Linked DNA regions of Homo sapiens: region 2 is linked to region 1. Evidence: fine-mapped expression QTL. A gene starts in region 1. The other region holds a variant in brackets. All regions are shown on one strand. Distances are from middle to middle. Region 1 holds the start of TRIM38 (tripartite motif containing 38). Region 2 has its middle 3.9 kb from the start of H1-2.

Region 1 (5,387 bases):
TGCACCACTACGCCCAGCTAATTTTTGTATTTTTAGTAGAGATGGGGTTTCACCATGTTGGTTGGCTCGATCTCTTGACCTTGTGATCCACCCGCCTCAGCCTCCCAAAGTGCCAGGATTACAGGCATGAGCCACCGTGCCCAGCCTCTTTTTCTTTTCTTATAAGACAAGTTCTCGCTCTCTTGCCCAGGCTGTAGTGGAGGGCAGTGGCATGACCACAGCTCACTGCAGCCTCGACCTCCTGGGTTTAAGCAATCCTCCTGCCTCACCCTGGCAGAGTGGCTGGGACTACAGGTATGTGCCACCATGTCCAGCTAAAGTCTTCTCTCCAGAAAGAAGAAATGCATTGGAATTTAGAGGATACACAAACATCTAGCTGTATAGCTAATACAGTAGCCACTATCATGAGTAGGAATTTAAATTTAACTTAATAAAAATTAAAATGAAAAAATTCAGTTTTTCTGTTCCAGTTGCCACATTTTGATTGCTTAATAGTTGCATGTGACTAGTGGCTACATAACAGCCTCAATATACAACATTCTGTTATCACAGAAAGTTACCTTGGACCAAGTGCTGGGAGAAGCAATGCAGGCTTCCTCACAAAAGCTGTAAAAGAGAGAACTCAGGGAGTGTGAAACTCTTTCCTATTCTAGTTAACTTCAAGAATAATTGTTACCAGGCCAGCACGGTGGCTCACGCCTGTAATCCTAGCACTTTGGGAAGCCGAGGCGGGCAGATCACCTGAGGTCAGGAGTTTGAGACCAGCCTGACCAACATGGCAAAACCTCATCTCTACTAAAAATACAAAAAGTTAGCTAGATGTGGTGGTGCACACCTGTAATCCCAGCTGCTCAGGAGGCTGAGGAAGGAGAATGACTTGAGCTCCGGAGGGGGAGGTTGCAGTGAGCCCAGATTACACCACTGCACTCCAGCCTGGGTGAAAGAGCGAGAATCTGTCTTAAAAAAAAAAAAAAGAATAATTGGTACCAGAATTACTCTTTGTAATTAGTAGTAACACTTATGCAATTGGGTGATCTGTGACAGATTCCATTGAAGGAGTATGGGGAGCTTCACCCCAATATATGACTCCCTGGTATAATGAGTATTTTGAATTAAAGGCCCTTAGAGATCAGCAGATGCTGGAAGAGACTTTTCCCCTATCTACATAAAGACCAGTCACACTAGACAAGAAGAACAATTGTTTTTCCTTCCAACCCCTATTATCTCATTTTGTACTGAAGAAAAGAGGACTAAGAATGTAACCAGACCTAATCAGACACTTTCACAAAATAATGTCTGTCTCTCAGGCTCATTCATTTTCCAAAGAGAACCATTTACAAGTTAAACTCTGTTCCTCCATTCATTCATCCTCCCAAATATTCATTTATTCTCCCTAGTAATCATTTACTGCCCCTCAAAGAATTACCTATATTCTCCTGATATCACCCTTCCCCTCTGAAATAAATATGTATACATGTATAAACGTTATACATACATATTTATACAGTATACATACATATTTATACATACATACATATGCATACATATTTATATTTATGTATTTATACATAAGTATTTATAAATAAGGCTATATAAGTATCTACCCCCATTGGCAGAGGGGGTAATCACTCTGTGATTCTAGCCCATGTACTTGTTAATAAATTTGTATGCCTTTTCTCCAATTAGCCTGCCTTTTGTGAGTCGATTTTTCAGTGAACTTCAGAAGGCAAAGGGGAAGTGTTCCCTTGGCTCCTACACCATCATGACAATAAAATTTGACTCCACCTCGACCCCCCCCATCCCCCACAAAGAACAACAACCAACACTGGTTAATAAGGTCGGTTGTTTTTTGTTTGTGTTTTTGTTGTTGTTGTTTTTGCTTTCAGGAGCAGAGGTATAATAGGCAAAAGAAAGAGAAAGGAGAATAGTGAATACCTCTTCTGCAGAGAGGGGTGCCTAAGTGGGACTTCCCTGGCTAATAACGTCTTGCTAGAGACCCAACCAGGAGGATAATGGAAGCAATCAAGGCAACCAGAACAACCAGAAGAACCGGTTTATCCTTTTTGTGCCCTCTCCCTAAACTGAGGGAATAAGAATTGGAAAGAAGGCTGCAGAGCAGAGGGTTTGCTCCTGAGGAGCAGTTATTTCTATGGGATCAGAGCTCCTGCAGAACTGGGGAGTTTACTTTTACTATCTCTTCTCCAGGACAGGACCTATCTCAAGAGACATGTTCAGAGTGATTGCAACATAAAGAGTTTGCAGACCCAAGGAGGTAGGGAAGGCAGAAAGAAGATGGGGGAGGCCAGGGATAGGCAACAGAGGAGTGACCAGGAGCGAAAAAGCCTGCCTCTTCTGAGAACCTAGCTGGGCTCTCCCTGTACCCCCGATCCCTCCCCCCCGCCCGCCCCCACACCCCTACTCCTGGGAGCTCCTCTAGGACAGGGGCAGAGTCAGGAGGAAGTTTGAAGAGTGCCTAGAATAAAAAACAGTAATTTAACTACAATTACCGGGTAGGCTGTTTTCCTCTCACAATTTGATCAGTCTCTTGAAGCCACACAGAATTTCTTCTGAAGACGTGTATTCCTTGGCAGGCTATTTCCTCCAGTGATACACCAGGCCCCTCTCTGCTGGGGTCACTGCTCTTCTGGGGAGATGGGGCTCCCCTCCTTCCAAGGCTCCAGGGTTCCTGTCCTGGGCCCCACTCATCTAAGTTCTGAATCTTCTGAGATTTGGTGTAAAGTCTGGTGAAAGAAAGAGCAGGAAAGAGGTGAGAGCTGTAAAACAAAGAAAGTCCTGACCATTTTCAGAGTTGGAGGGGCCCTGCTGTCACGAAATATATTCCCCACCCCACTTGCCATCAGTACACACTCACATATCCACTGAGAAAACCTTAGCCTGGACCTTTTCCGTAACCTTCACTGCTCAGACACTTACATATTCGCTGCTAGTCCCCTCTGTTGCTGCCACTTCCTGGGTCAGGAAGTTAACTCAGACCGGATTAAACTGAGAAGTGAAACTACTGTGGGAGGCGGGGCTCATAAGATTTAGGAGAAAACTAGTGACGTTGTTCATATCATTTGCACTCCGCCTCTCCGGTAAAGGAGGGGGAAACGTAGGAAGAAAATATCCTTCTTTTACAGCAATAAAAAGAAGGAACCAATTAATAACCCTGTAAACTATCATGTGACCCCAACACAGAGTATCTAAAAACAGGAAGCCTGCAGAGGTTCAGTTCACAGACTCTGATTTGAGATCTTTCTACTTTTGCCACCAACTCCCTTGGGAGTCCTTAAGCCTTCCTAGCTGATGTTACTTCTTTTGCTATTTATGGGTTGCTTGTGGTTCTATAACTGCTCTGAAGGGTGTGGTGGAAAAAGGGGTGGTAACAGCAGTAGGACTCATTGGCATCACAAAATTCATCTGAGTCAGCTTTCTATTCTTCTCTGTCCCGTTCTGTGTCTTGTTTTTCTCCTTGCTGTCCTTCTGCAGGACTCAGATCTTCTTCAATAGCGAGGGTCAGCCAGGATAGAAAATGGGAGTCACTAGTGGCCCAGCAGTGAGTGCCCCCAGCTTAGAGCTGTGTGGGATCCCTGGGACCATCACTCTGCTTTGTGCTTTGTGGAGAAAAGGCTGTGGGGTCCAGGGTCAAGTCCTTAATGACTTAGCTCCAGCTTCTCCACTTCAAAATGAAAGGAAAAGTACTATCACCACCCGTTAGAATTATTATTTCATGGGGAAAAAAGATGGATTACTATCTCACAATAAGAGCTTGTCACATTTATAAGTCTCAGGTGTAAGAGGCATTTATGATAACAACATAATAAATGCTGGCTTAAGTAGATGCAGTGGTCCAAGGGAACCAGTAAGGGGAGCTCAGGACACAGGTGGGAGGAGAAATTAAACTTGAATTCTGGGAGCCACTGGCCTGTCTGGGCCCCTGGCCTGCCTGCTGACCCTGATAGCCAATGGAACATGGAGTTTGGCCCAGCTGCAATCCCTCTGGTCCAACTACTCAAAATAAAGGCAAGATTGGGAAACACGTTCCTTTCTTCCTATACCAAGCAGAAGACTCTTCAGCACTGCACCCTCCTGGGTGCTCACAGAGCCTTCTGTTGTTTTGCCACCTACGATTCATCATGCCCTGGCATGATGGTTGCAGACCCCATGCATAGCATGGGACATTCTACTCCTGAGGCAACCAGCACACAGAGAGAGGAGAAAGAATGAGCCCCTGAATCCTTGGTCCCACGATGAGTCCTTGCAGATATCTACAACTTTCATTGTTGTGGATGTGACTCTGTACCCAGGCATGGCTCATTCCAGATCTGTCCTATTGTCAGAGGTGTTCAAACCAGAATGACTCCATTTTGAATGGGGGCTAGGTAAAATAAGGCTGAGACCTACTGGGCTGCATTCCCAGGAAGTTAGGCATTGTAAGTCACAGGATGAAATAGGCAGTTGGCACAAGACACAGGTCATAAAGATCTTGCTGATAAAACAGGTTGCAGTAAAGAAGCTGACCAAAACCCACCAAAATCAAGATGGCAACAAGAGTGGCCTCTAGTCATTCTCATTGCTCATTATACACGAATTATAATGTGTTAGCAAGTTAGAAGGCATTCCCACCAGCTCCATAGTGGTTTATAAATACCATGGCGATGTCAGGAAGCTACCCTATATAGTCTAAAAAGGGGAGGAACGCTTGGTTCTGGGAATTGCCCACATCTTTCCCAGAAAACATATGAATAATCCACTCCTTGTTTAGTACATAATCAAGAAATAACTGTAAGTATCTGTATTAGTCCATTTTCACACTGCTGATCCAGACATACCTGAGACTGAGTAATTTATACCAGGAAAAAATGTTTCATGCTCTTACAGTCCCACGTGTCTGGGGAGACCTCACAACCACAGCAGAAGGCAAGGAGGAGCAAGTCAGGTCTTACATGGATGGCAGCAGGCAAAGAGCTTGTGCAGGGAAATTCCTTTCTATAAAACCATCAGGTCTCATGAAACTTATTGACTATCATGAGAACAGCAGTATAAATTACTCAGGGAAAGACCTGCCCCCATGATTCAATTACCTCCCACCAGGTCCCTCCCACAATATGTGGGAATTTAAGATGAGAGTTAGGTGGGGACACAGCCAAACCATATCAGTATCCTTAGTCCAGAAGCTGATGCTCTGCCTGTAGAGTAGCCGTTCTTTTATTCCTTTACTTTCTTGCTTTCACTTTACTGTGTAGACTTGCCCCAAATTCTTTCTCACACGAGATCTAAGAACCTTCTCTTAGGGTCTGGGTTGGGACCCCCTTTCTGGTAACACTATCAAAGGATCAGGAAAAGGAAGCTAGTGAATGCTAAAAAGGAAACAAACTACCATTACC
Region 2 (5,387 bases), 97 kb before region 1:
GTATTTCTGGGAGTATTATTCCCATTTTACAGAGAAGGAACTTGGCAGGGTAACCAAGCTCATGAATGGAGAAACTGGGATTAAATATAAAGCTTCCTTGCTCCAGAACTGCTGTCTTTCTGCTCTTCCACACTACCAGCTCAGCTGTGCTCTCTACATGCAGGCAGTTTTACAAGTTTCAGATTAGCCTGGGACTTCCAGGGTTTTGAATGGGTTAGGGAATGGGGAACTTTTGGGTTTACTTTCCATTTTTTCTTCATACATATGTAATATATAACATAAATCTATGGTATATATGATAAATATATGGCTACATATGAACTATATAATCACATATATGCATTATAAATAAATATTAATTTTATAATATTTTAAAGGTTATCAAATAAATATTAATATAAATAATTAAATAATTAATACTCAGCTTTGTTTTCCAAAGTGATAAATGCCTATATTTAGCAAAATATTTTTTGGAGGCCTGATAGTTTTTAGGAGTGTAAAGAAGTCCTGATATCTAAATGTTTAAGAACCACTATTTTAGGCTGTTGTCTTCTGTCTTATTTTCCCAGCTAGACTGGTAAATACTTGAAGGCAAACGTTTAGCCAGCACATTAACATTTTATGTTTTTATTCTTTTGTGCTCTCAGTGGCTGTGTCTTTTCTATCGATTTCTCACACTGTATGATGGTTATATTTGTCTGTATCTGTCCCACCAGGTATAAGTTCTTGAGAGGACACACTGCTAGGCTGATCTTAGTTTTTATTATTTCTCCTGGTGTCCTGTGCTTAACAAGTGCTCATTAAGTGTGTAAAAACACAGCACAGTAAAAAACTAGACATTAAAAAATAATGTCAACCAATCTATTGAAATTTGCATTTCCATGTTTCTTCCAATATAGTCATTGTGTCAGGTTATGTACTTATTCTGATGAAGACTATTGCCTAATATACGTTTGCATCTTGTGCTTTATAACTGCCTTCATATAGACACAGATTGAGAAGGTGTAAAAATGTGCATATCCTCACAATTGACAAATTCTTATCCTTTGAGGGTAGGTTTGACTTTCTGAAATGCTTTGACATCATTTGAAAGAAGCTTGAAGAATAAGATAGCTGTTAATGACCCAGTTTCCTATGTCACTTATACAATTATAATGGCAATTTCAAAATGTTAGGTAAATATATTTTGCAATATATTGTTCCTTTTGTAATACTCTCTATGTATTTATTTATATTTTTAAATTTTATATTTATGTATTTATTTTTCTGGACAGAGTCTTGCTCTGTTGCCCAGGTTAGAGTGAAGTGTTGTGATCATAGCTCTCTGCAACTTCAAACTGCTTGGCAAAAGTGATCCTCCTGCCTCAGCCTCATGAGTAGAGTAGCGGGAACTACAGGCGCATGCCACTGCACCCAGCTAATCACTATTTATTATGCTCCTACTGTGTGCTTTAGTATATTTTCTGTTGTTTTCTGCAACCCATTTTGAGGGCGTGTTAGGGAATACAGATGCAGTAACTTTCGTCTCAGCCCTTGAGGTGAGGAAATATTTAGCCTCAGGTTTAATCTAATTGTTGGCCATTTGCCTTCAAAGATTGAAATATGAGCAAAACTGTGGCTCTGGGTTATATGTTAAAAAAAAGTTTATGGGGCTGAAGCCAGGCAACAGACAAGAGCCCCTACAATCTTATTTAGGCTGAAAATATCCTGGAGTCCCTGTATTGTTGGTCTCAAGCAGATAGCAACACTAACACTTACTCTTTGAGGCAGGCACTGCCAGTGGGGTGGCTGTTATTATTAGCTTCATTAATTGGTGAGTCAGGAAAAAACAGCTTTAAATCATTCAAAGTTCTGGCCTATACAGGATTTAGTAATATTAGGTTAGCTACATCCAAAAGATGACAGAACCCTACTCTAAGGCTGGGCTTGGTGGTTCACACCTATAATCTCAAAACTTTGGGAGGCTGAGGCAGGAGGATCACTTGGTGCCAAGAGTTTGAGACCAGCCTGAGCAACATAGTGAGACCCCTGTCTCTATCAAAAACAAAGAACTCTAATTGGCATAGTAGAAGGAAAAAGTGAAAGAAAAACCAGCTGTCACCCTCATTCCTTACACCTGTCCTAACAACTCCTCTCACTATCCTTTGAATATATCTTGGCTGTTTGAGTCTCTCTCTAGCCCCATTACTGCTGTTTGGACTTGACATTTTGCTCTGCATTTTTAACTTTTCTACCAGGGTTTCCAGACCCTGAAGAGTGTGGCATGAAACAAAACTAGTCAACCTATAATATTTATGATGTGTGTGTAAATAAAAGAATACACAATATATTGCATTACAATATTTTAACTGTGTCCTCAATTTGTTTGTGGCTTTCTTGAGGACATCAGTTTTGGGTGGGACGACCACATCCTTAATCTGAACTTTCCCTTGGAGGTCATTCTTTTTTTTTTGAAATAGAGTCTCGCTCTGTCACCCAGGCTGGAGTGCAGTGGCGCAATCTCAGCTCACTGCAACGTCCGCCTCCTGGGTTCAAGTGATTCTCCTGCCTCAGCCTTCCAAGTAGCTGGGATTACAGATGCACGCCACCATGCCGAGCTAATTTTTGTATTTTTAGAAGAGACGGAATTTCACCATGTTGGTCAGGCTGGTCTTAAACTCCTGACCTCATGATCTGCCCACCTCAGCCTCCTAAAGTGCTGGGATTACAGGCGTGAGCCACCCCGCCCGGCCAGAGGTCATTCTAATAGACTTTTTTT[T/GT]TGTTGTTGCTCACAGGCTTGTTCAATCTTATTTCAAAATTTGAGAAATACAGTTTCCATGGAACACCAACCAGATATCAGGTTGCTATGGAGTTGATAGTCAAAAGCTTTGTATCTTCCAGTTTTTCAGAATGGCTTCTAAAGGTTCTGATTCAGAGCTCTTAGGCGAAATTGAACAACCAAGTGTCAAAGTACAACATTCAGGAAGTTAAAAACATGACTGACATATATGTACTATATATAGTGAGCTTGTGTATGTGTCAATGAATGATTTAATTCATTAATGAAGGAGGAAGCAGAATCACAATTAGGTCAAAGGAAGATACGGGAGAATAAAATATGTATTTGGTCAGGGAAAGGATGTATACTGGAAGAGGAAGGGAAAATCAGATATAAAGTTGTTTAATGACTTATTAGGCAATACAATAATAACTTTTAGGGTCATTTTTTCTATATTAAGAATTCATTTCCATCTCTATGACAAAATCCTTATTAATTTATTAAACTTCTACAAGTGAATGTTTACTTTTAGATAGTCTGGACCCAATAAAATGTAAACATTAAGTCAGAGTTACTTTCACGTAGGACAGTGTTGTCCAATAAGGTACCACTAGCTACACGTGATCATTGACCATTTGGACTATAGCTAGACTGATTTAAAATGTTCTAAAAGTGTAAAATACACACCAGGTTCTGAAGATTTATCATTTAAAAAAGAATGTCAACTGTCTTTTTTTTTAGCTTATTTATTATATGTTGAAGTGATAATAGTTTAGATATATTAAGTTAAATAAAATATCTTAAAATTAATTTTACTTGTTTCTTTTCATTCTTTCAATGTGACCACTAGAAATCTGGAAAGTATTTATGTGATTCACATTCTATTTTACTGTCTAGTATTGCCTTACATCATCAGGTACCCCATAAGTAGGCTTTTTAGATAATTCTCTAATATAGCTTGGAAGGATATGGAGAAATATTTTTGCGTTGCTTTTAAGTTTTGCATAACTTTTTCAACACACTTTATAAAGGATCTAGAAAAGGGTTGGTTACATGTTTCTCTGTCTTCTGGCCTCCACCATGTTGCCAGGAGGTTGGGGACAAGATTCTGGGTGGCTGGATGTCCTAATGGCTTGAGGTCTGGACTTGAGATTTGCATATAAAGAGATGTGATTAGATTGAGTCGACTAGAAAAATCATATTAGAGAACTGAATCACAGCGATTAAATTTACATGTCGATTTATAAACCAGGACACCAATTTATAGTGAAAGAAGGTCCAGTTACCTGGTAATCAAGACGTTTCATAGCTATTTTCATGATGGATATACTTAGCTGAGTTTTAAATGAGAAGGGGGTTCATTGCACATAGAATAAGATCTAAGTGAAATGTTTATTTTATTTTTTTTTTTTTGACATGGAGTCTTGCTCTGTTGCCCAGGCTGGAGTGCAATGAGGCAATCTCGGCTTCTGGAGTGCAATGAGGCAATCTCGGCTTCTGGAGTGCAACGAGGCAATCTCGGCTCACTGCAACCTCCACCTCCCGGGTTCAAATGATTCTCCTGCCTCAGTTTCCTGAGTAGCTGGGATTAGAGTTGCCTGCCACCACGCCAGGCTAATTTTTGTATTTTTTTTAGTAGAGATGGGGTTTCACCATGCTGGCCAGGCTGGTCTCGAACTCCTGACCTCAGGCGATCTGCCCGCCTCAGCCTCCCAAAGTGCTAGGATTACAGGCGTGAGCCACCAAGCCTGGCCTAAGTGACATGTTCTTATATTGTTCCTTTCTTTCTTTTTTTTTCGACTGAGTCTCACCCTGTTGCACAGGCTGGAGTGCAGTGGCGTCATTTCGGCTCATTGCAACCTCTGCTTCCCGGGTTCAAGCGATTCCCTTGCCTCAGCCTCCTGAGTGCCACCACCCCCAGCTAATTTTTGTACTTTTAGTAGAGATGGTGTTTCACCATGTCGGCTAGGCTGATCTCAAACTCCTGGCCTCAGGTGATCCGCCCCCGAGTCTCCCAAAGTGCTAGGATTACAGGCGTGGGCCACGGGGCCCAGCCTTATATTATTTCTTTTACTACAATATATTAGTATGATGCAGGTGCTTCAATTGTTTATACACTTTCCATAATTTTGTATAATTCTTATACCCTGTCACTCTGAGGAATAGCCGGTCTAAGTGTTTTTCCACCACTGCTAATTCATCCATCACTAATCTCATTAGACTGTTAATTCCCAGAGGACATAAGCACACAAGCAGACAATGTTTACAAATGTTGGACAAATGTTATTTAATAAAACAATGGGGTCACCCTTAGTCTAAAAGATGTTTCACTTTTCATTTGTCATTGAACTCTTATTTGTAGGTTCCCTTTTGACTTTCCCACAATCTAAGGCTGTTCTCTTTAACACATATTTTCATGAAAACATATATTTGAGCAGAAATTGTTGGGGAGTTGTAATATTACCTTTGTCCCTAAATATGAATCTATAATTATATCAAATATATGGGCAGACAATTTACTTTGCCTTTAATCTCAAGAAAAAAATAGCAATTACTTGGGGTCGGAGAGTAAAATAAGAAGTAGTGAACCTTAAAGTAGCAAACTTTAGAACAGAATAGTTTCAGAGGG

The links. PIP is the estimated chance that this variant, and not a neighbour inherited with it, causes the effect.
Region 2: its variant is the best candidate, but not a certain one, in a credible set for the expression of TRIM38 in whole blood (TOPMed, PIP 0.76).

Annotation. Positions count from the first base shown.
Region 1 is chr6:25,960,403-25,965,789 of GRCh38, reverse strand. It overlaps TRIM38 (tripartite motif containing 38), which reads right to left and starts at 2,988. Exons shown (of 8, transcript NM_006355.5): 1 at 2,935-2,988; 2 at 2,508-2,741.
Region 2 is chr6:26,057,677-26,063,063 of GRCh38, reverse strand. No RefSeq gene overlaps it. Among named protein-coding and RNA genes, the nearest start is that of H1-2, 3.9 kb to the right of the region's middle. The variant T/GT (reference allele first, on the strand shown) is at 2,759.